2 separate regions of the Homo sapiens genome follow, and region 2 is linked to region 1. A link means that fine-mapping ties the variant in region 1 to the expression of a gene that starts in the linked region. Tissue or cell type: tibial nerve. Region 1 holds a variant in brackets; the other region holds the start of a gene. All regions are shown on one strand. Distances are between the middles of the regions.

What was found. PIP is the estimated chance that this variant, and not a neighbour inherited with it, causes the effect.
Region 2: it holds the start of HACD3, and the variant in region 1 is fine-mapped to the expression of HACD3 in tibial nerve (GTEx, PIP 0.93).

The regions. Positions count from the first base shown.
Region 1 is chr15:65,560,850-65,569,113 of GRCh38, reverse strand. HACD3 (3-hydroxyacyl-CoA dehydratase 3) reads right to left here. Exons shown (of 11, transcript NM_016395.4): 6 at 6,230-6,340; 7 at 4,772-4,899. Among named protein-coding and RNA genes, the nearest start is that of HACD3, 35 kb to the right of the region's middle. The variant C/T (reference allele first, on the strand shown) is at 4,799.
Region 2 is chr15:65,525,791-65,533,790 of GRCh38, reverse strand. It overlaps HACD3 (3-hydroxyacyl-CoA dehydratase 3), which reads right to left and starts at 3,328. Exons shown (of 11, transcript NM_016395.4): 1 at 3,073-3,328. The coding sequence starts at 3,159. RefSeq lists a silencer at 3,246-3,465 and an enhancer at 4,504-5,004.

The DNA.
Region 1 (8,264 bases):
ACCACGCTCAGCTAATTTTTTCTATTTTTTAGTAGAGACGGGGTTTCACCATGTTAGCCAGGATGGTCTCGATCTCCTGACCTTGTGATCCACCCGCCTCGGCCTCCCAAAGTGCTGGGATTACAGGCATGAGCCACCGCGCCCGGCCAAGACTCATCTATGTTGATGCATGTGGCTATAGTCCACTCATTTTCACGTGGCAAGACATTCCAATATATGATAGACATTCTATTCTTCATAGATATCTGGGTTGTCTGTTTCTGGGTTTTATTCTGTTCCCGTGGTCTGTGTGACTATCTTTGTACCATACAACGTGGTATTAGCTACTAAATCTTTATACTGTCTTGATTTTTTATAGGGTAAGTCCCCAATTTGAGCTCGTCTTTAAAGAATATTCTCGACCTTTTGCTTTTTTCTTTTTCCCATTTTAAAAATTGTGGTAAAATACACATAATGGCTGGGTGCGGTGGCTCATGCCTGTAATCCCAGCACTTTGGGAGGCCGAGGCTGGCAGATCATTTGAGGTCAGGAGTTCAAGACCAGACTGGACAACATGGTGAAACCCCATCTCTATTAAAAATACAAAAATTAGCCAGGCGTGGTGGCAGATGCCTGTAGTCCCAGCTACTCGGGAGGCTGAGGTAGGAGAATCGCTTGAACGTGGGAGGCCGAGGTTGCAGTGAGCCAAGGTCACACCACTGCACTCCAGCCTGGGTGACAGTGAAACACCATCTGAAAAAAAAAAAATACACATAACATAAACTTTACCATCTTAATCATTTTTTAAGTGTTTAGTTGAGTGGTATCAAATACCTTCATTATGTTGTGCAACCATAATCACCATCCATCTCCACAACTCTTTTCATCTTGTAAAATAGAAACTATGACCCATTGCCGGGCACGGTGGCTCACGTCTGTAATCCCAGCACTTTGGAAGGCCGAGGCGGGTAGATCACCTGGGGTCAGGAGTTCGAGACCAGCCTGGCCAACATGGGAAACCCCATCTCTACTAAAACTACAAAAATTAGCTGGGCGTGGTGATGGGCACCTGTATTCCTAGCTACTCGGGAGGCTGAGGTAGGAGAATTGCGTGAACCCAGGAGGCAGGGGCTGCAGTGAGCCTAGATTGTGCCACTGCACTCCAGCTTGGGCGACAGGGCGAGACTCTCAAAAAAAAAAAAAAGAAAGAAACTATGACCCATTAAACAATAACTCCCCATTCAGCCAGCCCCTGGCAAACACCATCCTACTTTCTGTCTCTATGGTTTTGACTATTTTAAGTACCCCATGTAAGCAGAATCATCTAGTATTTGACTTTCTGTGACTGGCTTATTTCACTTAGCATAGTTTCCTTAAGGTTCATCCACATTGTAGCATACGAGAGAATTTCTTTCATTTTTAAGGCTACATAATATCCCATTGTATGTATGTAACAGTCATTCTTATCCATTCATCTGTAGATGAACACTTGGGTTGCTTGCACATTTTAGTTATCGAAAATGATGCTACTATCCTGGATGGCCCTCTGTTTTTTCAAAAAGCTTCAGAATTTTCTCCTCACATTCCAAAATTTTTTAGATTGTGATTGGAAATGTATTGAATCTACAGGGAAATATGAGAACTAACAATATTATAATATTGAGTCTTATAATTCAAGAAAATTACGTCTGTATATTTACTTTTTGTGCTCTCTATTCCTTCCTGTATCTCAAAACAGTTCACTAATTTTCTCTTCAGCTATGTCTAATCTACAACACAAACTATCCATTAAATTTTTATTTTTTATTTTTTTTAGAGACAGGGGTCTCGCTCTGCTGCCCAGGTTGGAGGGCAGTGGCACAATCCCAGCTCACTGCAACATCGAACTCCTGCACTCAAGGAATCCTTCCGTCTCAGCCTCCCAAGTAGTGGGAATATAGGTGCACATCACCATGCCTGGCAAATTTTTATTTTTTTAGAAATGGGGTCTCACTATGCTGCCAAGGGTGGTCTCCAACTGCTGGCCTCAAGCAATCCTCCTACCTCAGCTTCCCAAAGTATGGGGATTACAGGAATGAGCCACCATGCCTGGCTGTAAATTTTAAAGTTTGATTATTGTACTTTTCATTAATACAAGTTTTTAAGAAGTACTGCCTTCATCTACACAAGGTGGGAGGAGACCACATACATTTCTAACTAAGGAGACTGAAGGTAGGTTTTTCAGCTCCTGCCTAAGAGTCAAATTTCCCTAGTCTTAAAGCTCTTTATAACTTTGTGATTTCATAAGGATATTATAAAAAATGAAAAAGACCTGAAATAGTAAAAGTCTACTTTGGTAAATAACCCTGGGGTTTTAAATGTTCTTTCTTGTTCAGGTAAAATAATGCTATTCCTGTACAAATAGGTGTTTTTACTAATTGAGACTTCTTAGCAAAATGTAACATACAGATATGGTTTGGCTGTGTCCCCATTCAAATGTCAGCTTGAATTGTATCTCCTAGAATTCCCACATGTTGTGGAAGGGACCCAGGGGGAGGTAACTGAATCATGGGGGCTGGTCTTCCCGTGCTATTCCCATGTTAGTAAATAAGTCTCACAAGATCTGGCGGGCTTATCAGGGGTTTCCGCTTTTGTTTCTTCCTCATTCTCTCTTGCCACCGCCATGTAAGAAGTGCCTTTTGCCCTGCACCACAATTGTGAGACCTTCCCCCGCCACATGGAACTGTAAATCCAATTAAACCTCTTTCTTTTGTAAACGGCCTGGTTTCAGGTATGTCTTTATCAGCAGTGGGAAAACGGACTAATACAGTAAATTGGTACCAGTAAAGTTGGATGTTGCTGAAAAGATACCCGAAAATGTGGAAGTGACCTTGGAACTGGGTAACAGACAGAGGTTGGAACAGTTTGGAGGGCTCAGAAGAAGATAGGAAAATGTAGGTAAGTTTGGAACCTCGTAGAGATTTGTTGAATGGCTTCGACAAAAATGCTGATAGTGATATGAACAATAAAGTCCAGGCTGAGGTAGTCTCAGATGGAGATGAAGAACCTCTTGGAAGCAAAGGTGAACTGGAGCAAAGGTGACTCTTGTTATATTTTAGCAAAGAGACTGGCAGCATTTTGCCCCTGCCCTAGAGATCTGTAGAACTCTGAACTTGAGAGAGATGATTTAGGGTATCTGGCAGGAGAAATTTCTAAGCAGAAAAGCATTCAAGAGGTGACTTGGGTGCTGTTAAAAGCATTCCGTTTTAAAAGAGAAACAGCATAAAAGTTTGGAAAATTTGCAGCCTGATGATTCAGTAGAAAAGAAAAACCCATTTTTTGAGGAGAACCTCAAGCTGGCTGCAGAAATTTGCACAAGTAGCAAGGAGCCTAACGTAATCCCCAATGTAATCCCCAAGACCATGGGGAAAATGTAACCAGACCATGTCAGAGGCCTTCATGGCAGTCCCTCCCATCACAGGCGCGGAGGCCCAGGGTCCCTGTGCTGTGTGCAACCTAGGGATTTGGTGCCCTGTGTCCCAGCTGCTCCAGCCTTGGCTGAGAGGGGCCAATGTACAGCTCAGGCTGTGGCTTCAGAGGGTGCAAGCCCCAAGCCTTGGCAGCTTCCACGTGGTGGTGAGCCTGTGGGTGCAGAGAAGTCAAGAATTGAGGTTTGGAAACCTCCGCCCAGATTTCAGAAGATGTATGGAAATGCCTGGATGCCCAGGCAAAAGTTTGCTGCAGGGATGGGGCCCTCATGGAGAACCTCTGCTAGGGCAGTGAGGAAGGGAAACATGGGGTTGGAGCCCCCACACAGAATCCCTACTGGGGCACTGCCTAGTGGAGCTGTGAGAAGAGGCCGCCATCCTCCAGACCCCAAAGTGGTAGATCCACTGACAGCTTGCACCATGCACCTGGAAAAGCTGCAGACACTCAATGCCAGCCGGTGAAAGCAGCCGGGAGGGAGGCTGCTCCCTGCAAAGTCACAGGAGTGGAGCTGCCTAAGACCATGGGAACCCACCTTTTGCATCAGCGTGACCTGGATGTGAGACCTGGAGTCAAAGGAGATCATTTTGGAGCTTTAAAGTTTGACCGCCCCACTGGATTTCAGACTTGCATGGGCACTGTAACCCCTTTATTTTGGCCAATTTCTCCCATTTGGAACGGCTGTATTTACCCAATGCCAGTACTCCCCTTGTATCTAGGAAGTAACTAGTGTGCTTTGATTTTACAGGCTCAAAGGCAGAAGGGACTTGCCTTGTCTCAGATGAGACTTTGGACTGTGGACTTTGGGGTTAATGCTGAAATAAGACTTTGGGGGACTGTTGAGAAGGCATGATTGGTTTTGAAATGTGAGGGTATGAGATTTGGAGGGGCCACGGCTAGAATGATATGGTTTGGCTGTGTCCCCATTCAAATTTCAACTTTAATTGTATCTCCCAGGATTCCCACGTGTTGTGGCAGGGACCTAGGGGGAGGTAAATGAATCAGTGCGGCCGGTCTTTCCCATGCTATTCTCAGGATAGTGAATAAGTCTCACGAGATCTGATGGGTTTATCAGGAGTTTCTGCTTTTGCTTCTTCCTCATTCTCTCTTGCCGCCACCACGTAAGAAGTGCCTTTCGCCCTCCACCATGATCGTGAGACCTTCCCAGCCACATGGAACTGTAAGTCCAATTAAACCTCTTTCTTTTGTAAACTGCCCAGTCTCAGGTATGTCTTTATGAGCAGCATGAAAATGGACTAATACACATACCCACTAGACAAATAATGGGACCTTCCATTACCCACCCTTCAGCTTAACTATTCAATACCTGGATCAGAGAAGGCAGCACCGGTGA[C/T]GTAGTGACTCCAATTGCTGCATTGATAGTTTCCACAACTGCCAGCATCTGGCAGAAATACATCATGTCAGCCACAGTATGGAATGTGTCATAAAAGGACTCTATAGGCAAAAATATACATTAAGGGTGAATCAGTTGGTAAATTCCAACAGAACTATTTCTCAAACTAGATTACTCCTTTCGTGAAAATAACTGTAAGAAAGGAATAACAAACATCCAGTCAGATTCAAGTTTCTTACTTAACTAAGCAGGAAGGGTGCAGGCCAATGGGGTCATGAATAGTAAGCTCTACCAGTTACCAGAAAGTTAACACGTACACCTTATATGCCTTTCTCTTTTTTTTTTTTGAGATGGAGTCTTACTCTGTCACCAGGCTGCAGTGCAGTGGCACGATCTTGGCTCACTGCAACCCCCGCCTCCTGGGTTCAAGTGATTCTCCTGCCTCAGCCTCCCGAGTAGCTGGGACTACAGGCACGCACCACCATGCCCAGCTAATTTTTGTAATTTTAGTAGAGATGGGGGTTTCACCATGTTGACCAGGATGGTCTCGATCTCTTGACCTCGTGATCTGCCCACCTAGACCTCCCAAAGTACTGGGATTACAGGCGTGAGCCACCACGCACAGCCACCTTTCTAAATTTTTTTAAGAGTCAAGGTCTTGCTCCATCACCCAGTCTAGAGTACAGTGTCATGATCACGGCTTACTGCAGCTTCAACCTCCTGGGCGCAAGAGATCCTTCCACTTCAGCCTGTTAAAGTGCTGGGATTACAGGTATGAGCTACTACACCTGGTCCATACTTTCATTATCAGGTAGAAAAATCCTCTCCCATTAATCTTTCTTCTCCTAAATTTTATTACCTATTTATTCATCAAATAAAGTTTCAGAATACTTTAGATCAAATTCTCAAAAATTTCCCATTGGCATTTACCAATGGAATGCCACTGGTCAAAGCCAGAATCCTGCTAAACACATAAATTAATTTAAGAAGAACTAATATCTTTATGATGCTCTTTTTATTCTGTTTTAGAATAGTTCATTTTAGAACGTATTTAGGCTCCAAAAGGGTGAGAACCCTTTTGGCCTTGCATAACTTTGGCACTGGAAGTATCACATCAATTTATTTAGTTGTTAGTGAACATTTTTACAAAAGGATTCTAGCCCAAGATGTGGCTCTGGCTAGCTATGGATGTGAACCATTTTTGACCATCTCTAGGCCTATATTTTATTACCTGTTATATGGAAAGAATACCAGTCAGCTTATTTCACAAGGCCATGGGAAATAAGAGCTATGAAAGCACAACGAAAAGTAGAGGGTGCTGCACAAATGCAGGGGTTATTATTAACATCAAAGGCAGAGAGTGCTCCCTTTGGTGAATACTGGGCCAAACTACTGAGAAAGGGAAAATTAATCCAAAAATGTCTTACTTGCCTTTTCCCAAGATACAGAATCGCACAGTCAGGTTGACAAAGATCCAGGAGAATCCCAAGAATTGCACAAGATTATACATAAACAGGTATCCTTTCCTTAAGTTTGTAAGAGCTGTAAAGCAAAGCAAAGCAGTAAGCTATTAAAAGCAATAGTCCCAGCAGGAGACAGGTGTATGAGGCATATCTGGATGACTTCAACCCTTTTTCCTTCCTGAATGCTCCTAAGCTCCCACACAAATACCTGGTCCAGGTCCTCACCAGCCTGGGCTCCTACTCCCACAGAGAAACATACAAGGAACATTGCTCTCCAGCATGTATTTTCAGCAGGACTTCCTTTCCCAGCCTTGAAGAATAGGTATACAGACATAACAAACCCAAGAAAAAAATATTACCCCTGGTGTGATATTATGATATGTGTATATGTATATATAGGTTTTCGGCAACGGTTTCTGGCTTATAACTCCCACAGCCCTTGTTACAGTTTTTTGTTATAATGTTGGGACACTTTAGGCCTCAGACAACAGAATCTCCCTCTATGACCTTCCCTGCCTTCCTTTCAGCTGCCCAAGGCACGACTCTAATCTGATTGTGGGTCCTAAGACCCTCATTCCAGAGAGGGTCTTGCCTCATACTCTGGAGGAGGGAACACTGCACAGAGAGGCTGAGAAGAATCTGGACAGACAGGCCTTGCTGGGTTTAGGTCAGACCCTTTTTGTCCAATCACATTTCAACACAGTTCAACACGCTTCAGTCATGCCTATCCGATGAAGTCTCCATAAAAGGCCCAAGGGGACAGGGTTTAGTCAGCTTCCAGACAGCTGAACACACGGAGGTTCCTGGAGGGTGGCACACCTGGGGAGGGCATGGAAGCTCCGCGCCACTTCCTCCATACTTCCTCCTAATCTCTTCATCTGTATCCTTCATAATATCCCTTATAATAAATGAACAAATGTGTTTCCCTGAGTTCTGTGGAGCCACGCTAGCAAATCAATCAAACCACAGGAGCGGGTTGTGGGAACCGTAATTTACAGCCTATTGGTCACAAGTTCTGGAGGTTCAGACTCGGGACAGGCTGGGGGCAGGGGTGTGTCTTGGGGACTGAGCCCTCCATCTGTGGGAACCTGATGCTATCTCTAGGTAAACAGTGTCAGAATTGAACCAGAGGGCACCCAGCTGGTGTCTGCTGCAGAACTCATTGCTTGCTTGGTATGTGGGGGAAAAAACCCACCCACTTGGTCACAGAAGTCTTCTGTGTTGATTGTTGTTGAGTAAGAAAATAGGAAAAAGCAGTTGAGTGTTGTAGTGTTGTATTTTTTCCATAACACCTGGCAAAAAAATGAGTGGCCATCTGAAGAGGCATTACAAAAAGGAAATAAAGATTTCCTCAGCTCCGGCTCAATTTTTTTTTTCTTTTTTTTTTGAGACAGAGTCTTGCTCTGTCACCCAGGCTGGAGTGCAGTGGCACAATCTCGGCTCACTGCACGCTCCACCTCCCAGGTTCAAGCAATTCTCCTGCCTCAGCCTCCCGAGTAGCTGAGATTACAGGCTTCCGCCACCACGCCCGGCTAATTTTTGTATTTTAGCAGAGACAGGGTTTCATCATGTTGGCCAGGGTGGTCTTAAACTCCTAACCTCAGGTGATCTGCCCACCTTGGCCTCCCAAAGTGCTGGGATTACAGGCATGAGCCACCGTGCCTGGCCCTCCAGTCATCTTAATATAATCCATAGTTTCTTCTTTTCTGGAATTTCTTTAAGGTCACTGAGGTCAAACTAGCTCAAAGAGACAGATACAGTAAATGAAAAAAACAACCCTGATATTTGGTTATATATTCACTCAACCAAGCATTAACTGAATACCTACAATGTGCAAGGTACTGTGAGAAGAACTACTGGGATACAAAGGTAGTTCAAGGCTGCCCTCAGAGCTTACAATCTAAAAACTGTAATACCAGGTGGGGAGTAACAAGTAATGTCTTGTGAAACTTTCAAGGTGAAAAAACGACATTAGGCTGGAGAAGTAGGCATCAAGCTAGTCT
Region 2 (8,000 bases), 35 kb after region 1:
CATGAGCCACCACACCCGGCTGCTTTTCTTTCTTTTTTTTTTTTTTAAATAACAAATCTGCACATGTAAAACCACTGGTTTCAACAGGCCCTGCATAGAGCAATCAGTTGAGAAAGAAAAAAAAAAGGCAACCCGTGACACTCCAGAAGCAGGCATAGCACTCACAGCCAGGCCATGTTATTCTCCTATGGGACATAAACAATCTCACAGAATACCAACCTCAGACAAGGTTACTCTGAAATCCTCATAAAATGAGACAAAGGCCATTTCACAATTTTGTTATAAGCACAGACAAATACATAGTGGCTATGCCACTCACGAAATACCAAACACCCTTTGGCCAAATTGAGTGACTGCTACTCCTGTAGCAATTACAGTTTTGTTCTTATACTAGTCTCCCTGCCCTACAGGTAAGATTTATTCAGATACCCAACCACGAAACTCCCATATTTTCTTACAGGATCTTATCTGAAGTGAAACCCAACCTCCTTAACCCTCCCCTCCCCTAATCACCAACACCCAAATCCTATAATCAGTTCTAACACCCTCCTAATGAAACACCCCAGGGTTCCCCATGGAGTATGCTCTCTCAATGCAATGAGTAATAAACCCAACTTGTTTAACTACGGGTGTGTTATTGGTGGCCTTTGGGCATTGACACGGCTTAAGTCAGAGATTACAAGTGTCTAAAAGTCTATGCCTTTCTCTTTCTGGAACATTCTCCCAGTCTTAGTTTGACAAAAATAATTCTCATTTCTGGAAGTCATCACTAACTAAATGAAAGAAAGGTAACAAATTCCTTTAACACCAGATACCTGGTTCAACATCCAACTCCAATTCTACCAATAAACATACTCCTACACAAAACTTTTTGTTTGTATATGATACGCCTCCTTCTAGATAGCATGCCCTTGAAAAGCTGGGTCTGACTCACCTTTGTAAATCTGTACTACCTTACATGTGTTAGAGGATTGCTAACACATGTAAACACTCTTTTATGAGGGTAACATCATGCTTTTAAACTAATGGTAGTTGAAATATGGGTGCCTCAAAACTACAGATGTGAAACCCCAGAGAAAACAAAAACTCAATAAGGGGGAAAAATGATTTATTTTTCCCCAAAAATTTTTAGATGGTTACTTTTTTTTTTTTTTTTTTGAGACAGAGTTTCACTCTTGTTGCCCAGGCTGGAGTGCAATGGCACCATCTCAGCTCACCGCAACCTCCGCCTCCCGGGTTCAAGCAATTCTCCTGCCTCAGCCTCCCGAGTAGCCAACATAGTGAATTACACGCATGCACCACCATGCCCGGCTAATTTTGTATTTTTAGTAGAGATGGGGTTTCTCCATGTTGGTCAGGCTGGTGTCGAACTCCTGACCTCAGGTGATCCTCCCGCCTCGGCCTCCCAAAGTGTTGGCATTACAGGCGTGAGCCACAGCACCTGGCCTGTTCCGTACTTTTTTATTGACTGCTGGAAGAACCCTCTCTAGACGGGGACTTTGATCCCCATCTACAAAAGATTTTGTTTGTTTTTTCCTATTCTATTAAACCACCGTGGAGCAGTAGAGGGAGACAGCACAGAACATTTACTCATACTCTGACCCAAAAGTATAGCCTCAGTCTGGATGAACACATTAAACGACACACCATGCAATGTCATAGCCTATTTAAAGGCATTCTGGCCACTACTGTCTTCATCTTTCAACAGGAAAACTGTTTATATTCCAGAAGCAAAGATTATATTAAATTCAATAAATTCAAGTCGACACTCAGAAAGCACCTACATTTTACCGGATCCACGGGTGATCCAAGCAGATGCCTGTTCAGAGGCAGAGAGAGTTAAATGGAGTGAAAGAGATGACAAAGTGCCATAGATGTTAAGGAGAAGTTTCCAATAAGAATGACTGTAGAAAGAACCTTCCAGAGGCTGGGCGCGGTGGCTCATGCCTGTAATCCCAGCACTTTGGGAGGCCGAGACGGGTGGATCACCTGAGGTCAGAAGTTCGAGACCAGCCTGGCCAACATGGTGAAACCCTGTCGCTACTAAAAATACAAAAATTAGCCGGGCATGGTGGCACGCGTCTATAATCCCAGCTACTCGGGAGGCTGAGGCAGGAGAATCCCTTGAACCCGGGAGGCAGAGGTTGCGGTGAGCCGAGATCGCGCCATTGCACTCCAGCCTGGGCGACAAGAGCGAAACACCGTCTCAAAAAAAAGAAAAGAAAAAAAAAGAAAGAAAGAAAGAAAGAACCTTCCAGAATGAAAATTCCAGTTTCTCAAAGCCCAGAATCTTTAGTTTGGACAGAGACATGAGGATACACAGGTCCTGGAGTCTCCACTACTACGTGCCTTCAGCTTGCTTACATTAAGGGCCAAGGAGCTCAAACAGAAATGCTTAATGTAACTTAAGAACTTTTTAAGTTCTCTGTGCAACTCAGCAAACCTGAGCTCACAACCTTCAGAACAGAGGGGGAAATCACTTCCTCCAGCTCTTGTGAATTTTAAAATTAAAAGTAATGAGAATGATTTCCATCACTGAACGGTTGCGAGGTGGGTGTGGCCCCCCACCCCTCCCCCTCCCCCACCTCCGGCAGCGCCCAGCCTCAGTAACGTCCGAGGGGCCTGGCTGGACCTCTCAGGCCAGCGGCAGGCATTCAGCTACGGCCCAGCAAGCCGCTGTCACAACCGCACCCCTGACCCAACAAGCTCATCCCACATCTCGAAGGGCCCCAGCCAACTCGAACCCCGACGGCCAGGCAGCCAGGGCCGGGCCTGGGCTCCATGAAGGCCGCCGACTGCGAACAAAGAAGAGGCCCGGGGTAGCCTGAGAGGCCCAGGCCGAGCTCTCTGGGGACCCGAAGGTTCCTGCAGCCCTCGGGGGGTTGTGCCCCCGGCCCGAGATCTGCAGATGAGCCTCGAAAAGCGCCAGCACGCCGTAAGCGCACCGCGTCGCCGACCTTGTTGGCGCACTGCAGGCTCTCCGGCGCGCACGCGGACAAAGGGGGCAGGGGTCCTGGCGGGTACCCGGAGCCGCGATCCCGCGCGCTTCCCGCCGCCCGACCCGGCCTTTACCTGTACGTCACTCAGCTCCACGCGCAGATATAGCTCGCGGTGTCGCTGAGCCCAGTAGACATGCGGCGTCAACACCTGATTCTCCATGGCCACACTGCCCAGGGCGCGGGGAGGCTAGGCTCGCTGCGCCTCGCTGCCTCAGGTAGTGCTCTGCTGGCGCGAGCAGAAAGCAGGCCTCAAACCCTAGCGCTCCTGAGCGCCTGCAACCCGGCACCTCGAGATACCCCACGCTCGCGGGCCGCGCCTGCGCAGTGACGCGCCGGGATGGCGGCGGCGCCAGCAGCGGGCCTTGGCGCGAGCCGGGCGGGGGCGGGGCGCAGGCGGGATAGGGGCAGGCCGGGGCACAGAGACGCCGCAGCTCGCCGCGGCCGCCTAGGGAATTGGAATCAGCGGGTGGTCTGCTCTCCCCACTCGTCTTCAGGGACATGCTTTAAAATAAGCTTTAAAATAAAAAAGGCTGGAGACTTATGGGGGACCGATCAGCCTGGAAAAGGGTTTGGGACTGGTGTCTCTGGACGGTCCTTCGCATTCTGTTTACTGAGTACCTACTGTGTGCCTGGGTTTCAAAGCTAAACACTGGAACAACAGAAGTGAGACACAGTCCCTTCTGTCTTAGAACTCCCAGCCTATTAAAAGATGCAAGTAATTACAGATGAAATGAGGATAATAATGGTGATAGGGGACATGGTGTGGGAGCAGCGTGGAAGAGCGTTCCAACAAGGGAAAATAAAGACCAGGGCAGCGCTGCCCAATAAAACTGTAGGTGATGATGGAAATATTGCACATTGCGCTCTTTAATACGGTAGCCACTAGCCACATGAGGCTTTTGAGTACTTGAACTGAATAACCGAATTTTCAATTTTACTCACTTCTGTTTTTTTTTTGTTGTTGTTGTTGTTTTGTTTTGAGACGGAGTTTCTCTCTTGTTGCCCAGGCTGGAGTGCAATGGCGCGATCTCGGCTCACCGCAACCTCTGTCTCCCGGGTTCAAGTGATTCTCCTGCCTCAGCCTCCCGAGTAGCTGGGATTACAGGCATGCGCCACCGGCTAATTTTGTATTTTTAGTAGAGACGAGGTTTCTCCATGTTGGTCAGGCTGGTCTCGAACTCCCGACCTCAGGTGATCCGCCCGCCTTGGCCTCCCAAAGTGCTGAGATTATAGGCGTGAGACACCGCGCCCGGCCAACTTTATTCACTTCTAATTTAAACTTAAATATCCATATTTTTGGTGGCTATTCTATTGGACAGTGCAGGAGACTGTCTCAAAAAAATAGGAAACTCAAACTAGAGACAACACTCATTTATGTCTTACTTAAGCTGTCTTGTCTGTATCGGGTTTCATCCCCAAGTTCTTCTGCAGAGAAGAATTTAATGGGAAGAAATATTTATATGAAAACTAGAACTCTGGGACAAAAATGGAACTCATATTCAATCCTGTTAGCTCCCATTTATTTAGCAAAGTGATTCTATTAGCACCCGTTTGTTTAGCAGAGGGATCTAACGCTGAAAACAAATTCTGCTAGCTCTCTGGAAACATTTAGCTCAAGAGTGGACAGAATAAAATATAGAGAGTTTTCATATAATGAATGTGCTGAGCTCACAAAGAGTTTATGATGATAGGAACTGAGGGCCGTGGGAACCATTGTCAGACATTTGAGAGCCAACCCTTGAGAACGGGATGGTGAAATGCGAGTAGGAATTTGACTGAGTAAGAACCAGGTAGGCCGTGGAAGCACAGGGCGCTTGCTTCGTTCACAGGTGAAAAGATGTGGACCAGGTGCAGCGTCTCACGCGTGTAATCCCAGCACTTTGGGAGGACGAGGCGGGAGGATCGCTGGAGCCCAGGAGTTTGAGACCAGCCTGGGAAAAATGGCAATACACTGTCTCTACAAAAAATACAACAGTTAGCAGGGCGTGGTTGGCGCGCCCCTGGGGTCCGAGCTACTCGGGAGGCTAGGGTGGGAGAATTGCTTAAGCCCAGGAGGCGAGATCGCGCCACTGCACTCCAGCTTGGGTGACAGTGTGAGGCCCTGTCTTAAAATTTAAAAAAGAGAGAGGGTTGTGGAAGGAGGTTCTGCTGCTAGGGATTAAAGGCATAGAGGAGAGAGGTCGCCCTGAATCTGGAAAGGCAGAGGGTGCATTAGGAAAGTCTTTGTTTGCTTCACTGAGGTGCCTATACTGTATCCCACAGACACATGGGAGCCAAGGAAGTTTGTTAACCTGGAGATTAGTAAAATCAAATGTGCTCAGCAAGAAAGACCTGTCAGAGAGGAGGAGGAATTGGTAGTAGGCAAAGCAATGGGAGACCAATGCAATCTGCCAAGAATGAGTTGATGAAAGCAGTGACGTTGACAGTCTTGAATTTTAACGATAAAATATTTTTTATGATAAAGGTATTTTATTGTATTGTGTTTACTACAATGCAGATGCAATATGGGGCACTTTTTAAAAACATTGAGATGTAGTTTACATATAGAACATGGGTAAATCTTAAATATTCAGTTTAAGCTGAATTTTTCTATATGTATATATCCATGTAATTATCACCTAGATCAAGATCTGGAATATTTCCAGTATCCCAGAGGTTATTTCATGTTAAAATATCTTTGCCTCTCAGTAATTACTATCCTGATATATCACCATAGAGTCTTTTTTGTCTGTTCTGTTCTTGAATTTTATATAAATGGAACCTACAGTGTCTGGTTTCTTTTTCTTTTTTCTTTTTTTTTTTTTTGAGACAGAGTCTTGCTCTGTCACCCAGGATGGAGTGCAGTGGTGCAGTCTCGGCTCACTGCAACCTCGGCCTCCCAATTCAAGCGATTCTCCTGCCTCAGCCTCCCAAGTAGCTGGGATTACAGCTGTCCGCCATCACGCCCAGCTAATTTTTGTATTTTTAGTAGAGACGGGGTTTCACCATGTTGGTCAGGATGGTCTCTAACTCCTGACCTCGTGATCTGCCTGCCTCAGCCTCCCAAAGTGCTGGGATTACAGGCATGAGCCACCGTGCCTGGCCCCTAATTTTTGTATTTTAGTAGATACGGGGTTTCACCATCTTGGCCAGGCTAGTCTTGAACTCCTGACCTCATGATCCACCCGCTTCAGCCTCCCAAAGTGCTGGGATTACAGATGTGAGCCACCGCACCGGGCCTTGGTTTCTTTCATCAACATAATGTGTATGAGATTTATCCATGTTGCTGAGTGAATCAGTAATTCATTCTTTTAGTTTTTGGTTTTGCTCTGTAGTAGTTGACTATATGAGTATACCACAAATTATTTATCCATTCTCCTATCGATGGATATTTGTGTTGTTTCTAGTTTTTAGCTATTACAAATAAAGCTGCTCTGAATATTTGTGTACCTGTCTTTTGGGGATAAATGCTCTTAATTATCTTGGAATAAATACCTATGAAGGGAATTGCTAGGTTACACAGGTGTATGATTAGCTTTAGTAGGTGTGCTAAGCAGTTTTACAAAGTGTTTTGGTCAATTTACATTCCACGGCAATGTTTGAAAGTTCTAGTTGCTCTATATCCCTAGTATTTTCAGACTTTTTAATTTAATTTTATTTTATTTTATTTTATTTTATTTTTTGAGAAAGAGTCTTGCTCTGTTGCCCAGGCTGGAGTGCATTGGCGCGATCTCAGCTCACTGCAACTTCTACCTCCGCAGTTCAAATGATTCTCCTACCTCAGCCTCCCAAGTAGCTGGGATTATAGGTGTGCACCACCACACCTGGCTAATTTTTTTATTTTTAGTAGAGATGGGGTTTCACCATGTTGGCCATGCTGGTCTCAAACTTCTAGGCTCAAATGGTCTCAAACTCCTGGGCTCAAGTGATCCTCCTGCTGCAGCCTCCCAGGCGTGAGCCACAGCACCCAGCCTAATTTTTTTTTTCCAGCACCACCCCCACCCCCAGCCAATGTTTTTAATTTTAGCCATCCTGGTAGGTGGGTAATAAAAAATAGAATAATTTTAATTCAGCGTATTTGAAACCTGAGGCTTATCAGCTGACTTCTACCAAGGTGAAAGCTATTGATATAGAAGAAGACTGAATGTTGGCATTTTGCCTCAGATGCTTCATAAGAAAGGTCCAGTGGAAGTGGGCCTATCCAGCCTGGTTTGACCACTAGTAACATACTGCAAAATGACTTCTTTAGGCCTGAGTTTCCACATTCATCAAATTAGGTAAATTTGATGAGTTGGATTTGGTTCCCTCTAATGCTCTTATCAGCTGTTTCTAAATTTTTCTGCAAAGAGACCCCACTATTATGGACCCCTCTCTGCAAGAGAAATCTAACAAGAAAAAAAATAGAAATGGAGAGAAGAAAGAGTATCATTCTGGTGAACTATAAAACTCCAGGGTGGGGCTGGACATGGTGGCTTATGCTGTAATCCCAATGCTTTGGGAGGCTGAGGTGGGAGGATCGCTTGAGTTTAAGAGTTCGAGACCAGCCTGGGCAAAACAGTGAGACCCCATCTCTATAAAAAATTTTAAAAATTAGCCAGGTACGGTGGCATGTGCCTGTAGTCCTAGCTACTAAGGAGGCTGGGAGGATCTCTTAAGCTTGGAAGGTCAGAGATGCAGTGAACTGTGATGGCACCGATGCACTCCAGCCTGGACAACAGAGCAAAACCTTGTCTCAAAAAAAAAAAAGCAAACCAAAATACGCTGGAAGGTGGCAGGGGAGATTAAAAGGCAGAGCCAAGTGGCAGTGCCAAGCTGAAATAGGTAGGGCTAAGAGTTTTATGATACTATCGGTCAAATGAAAATGCAAATTTAGCCTTGTCTTTTTGTCCTACCTTCTAGATGCAGCCTTCCCAGCCTCATTTGGCCAAGGGCCAGCTCTCCCTTCTCAGAGAATAGTCACCACTAACTACAGGAAGCATTTGCTGAGTACTTGCCATGGATTAAGCTCATTCCCAGGGCTGA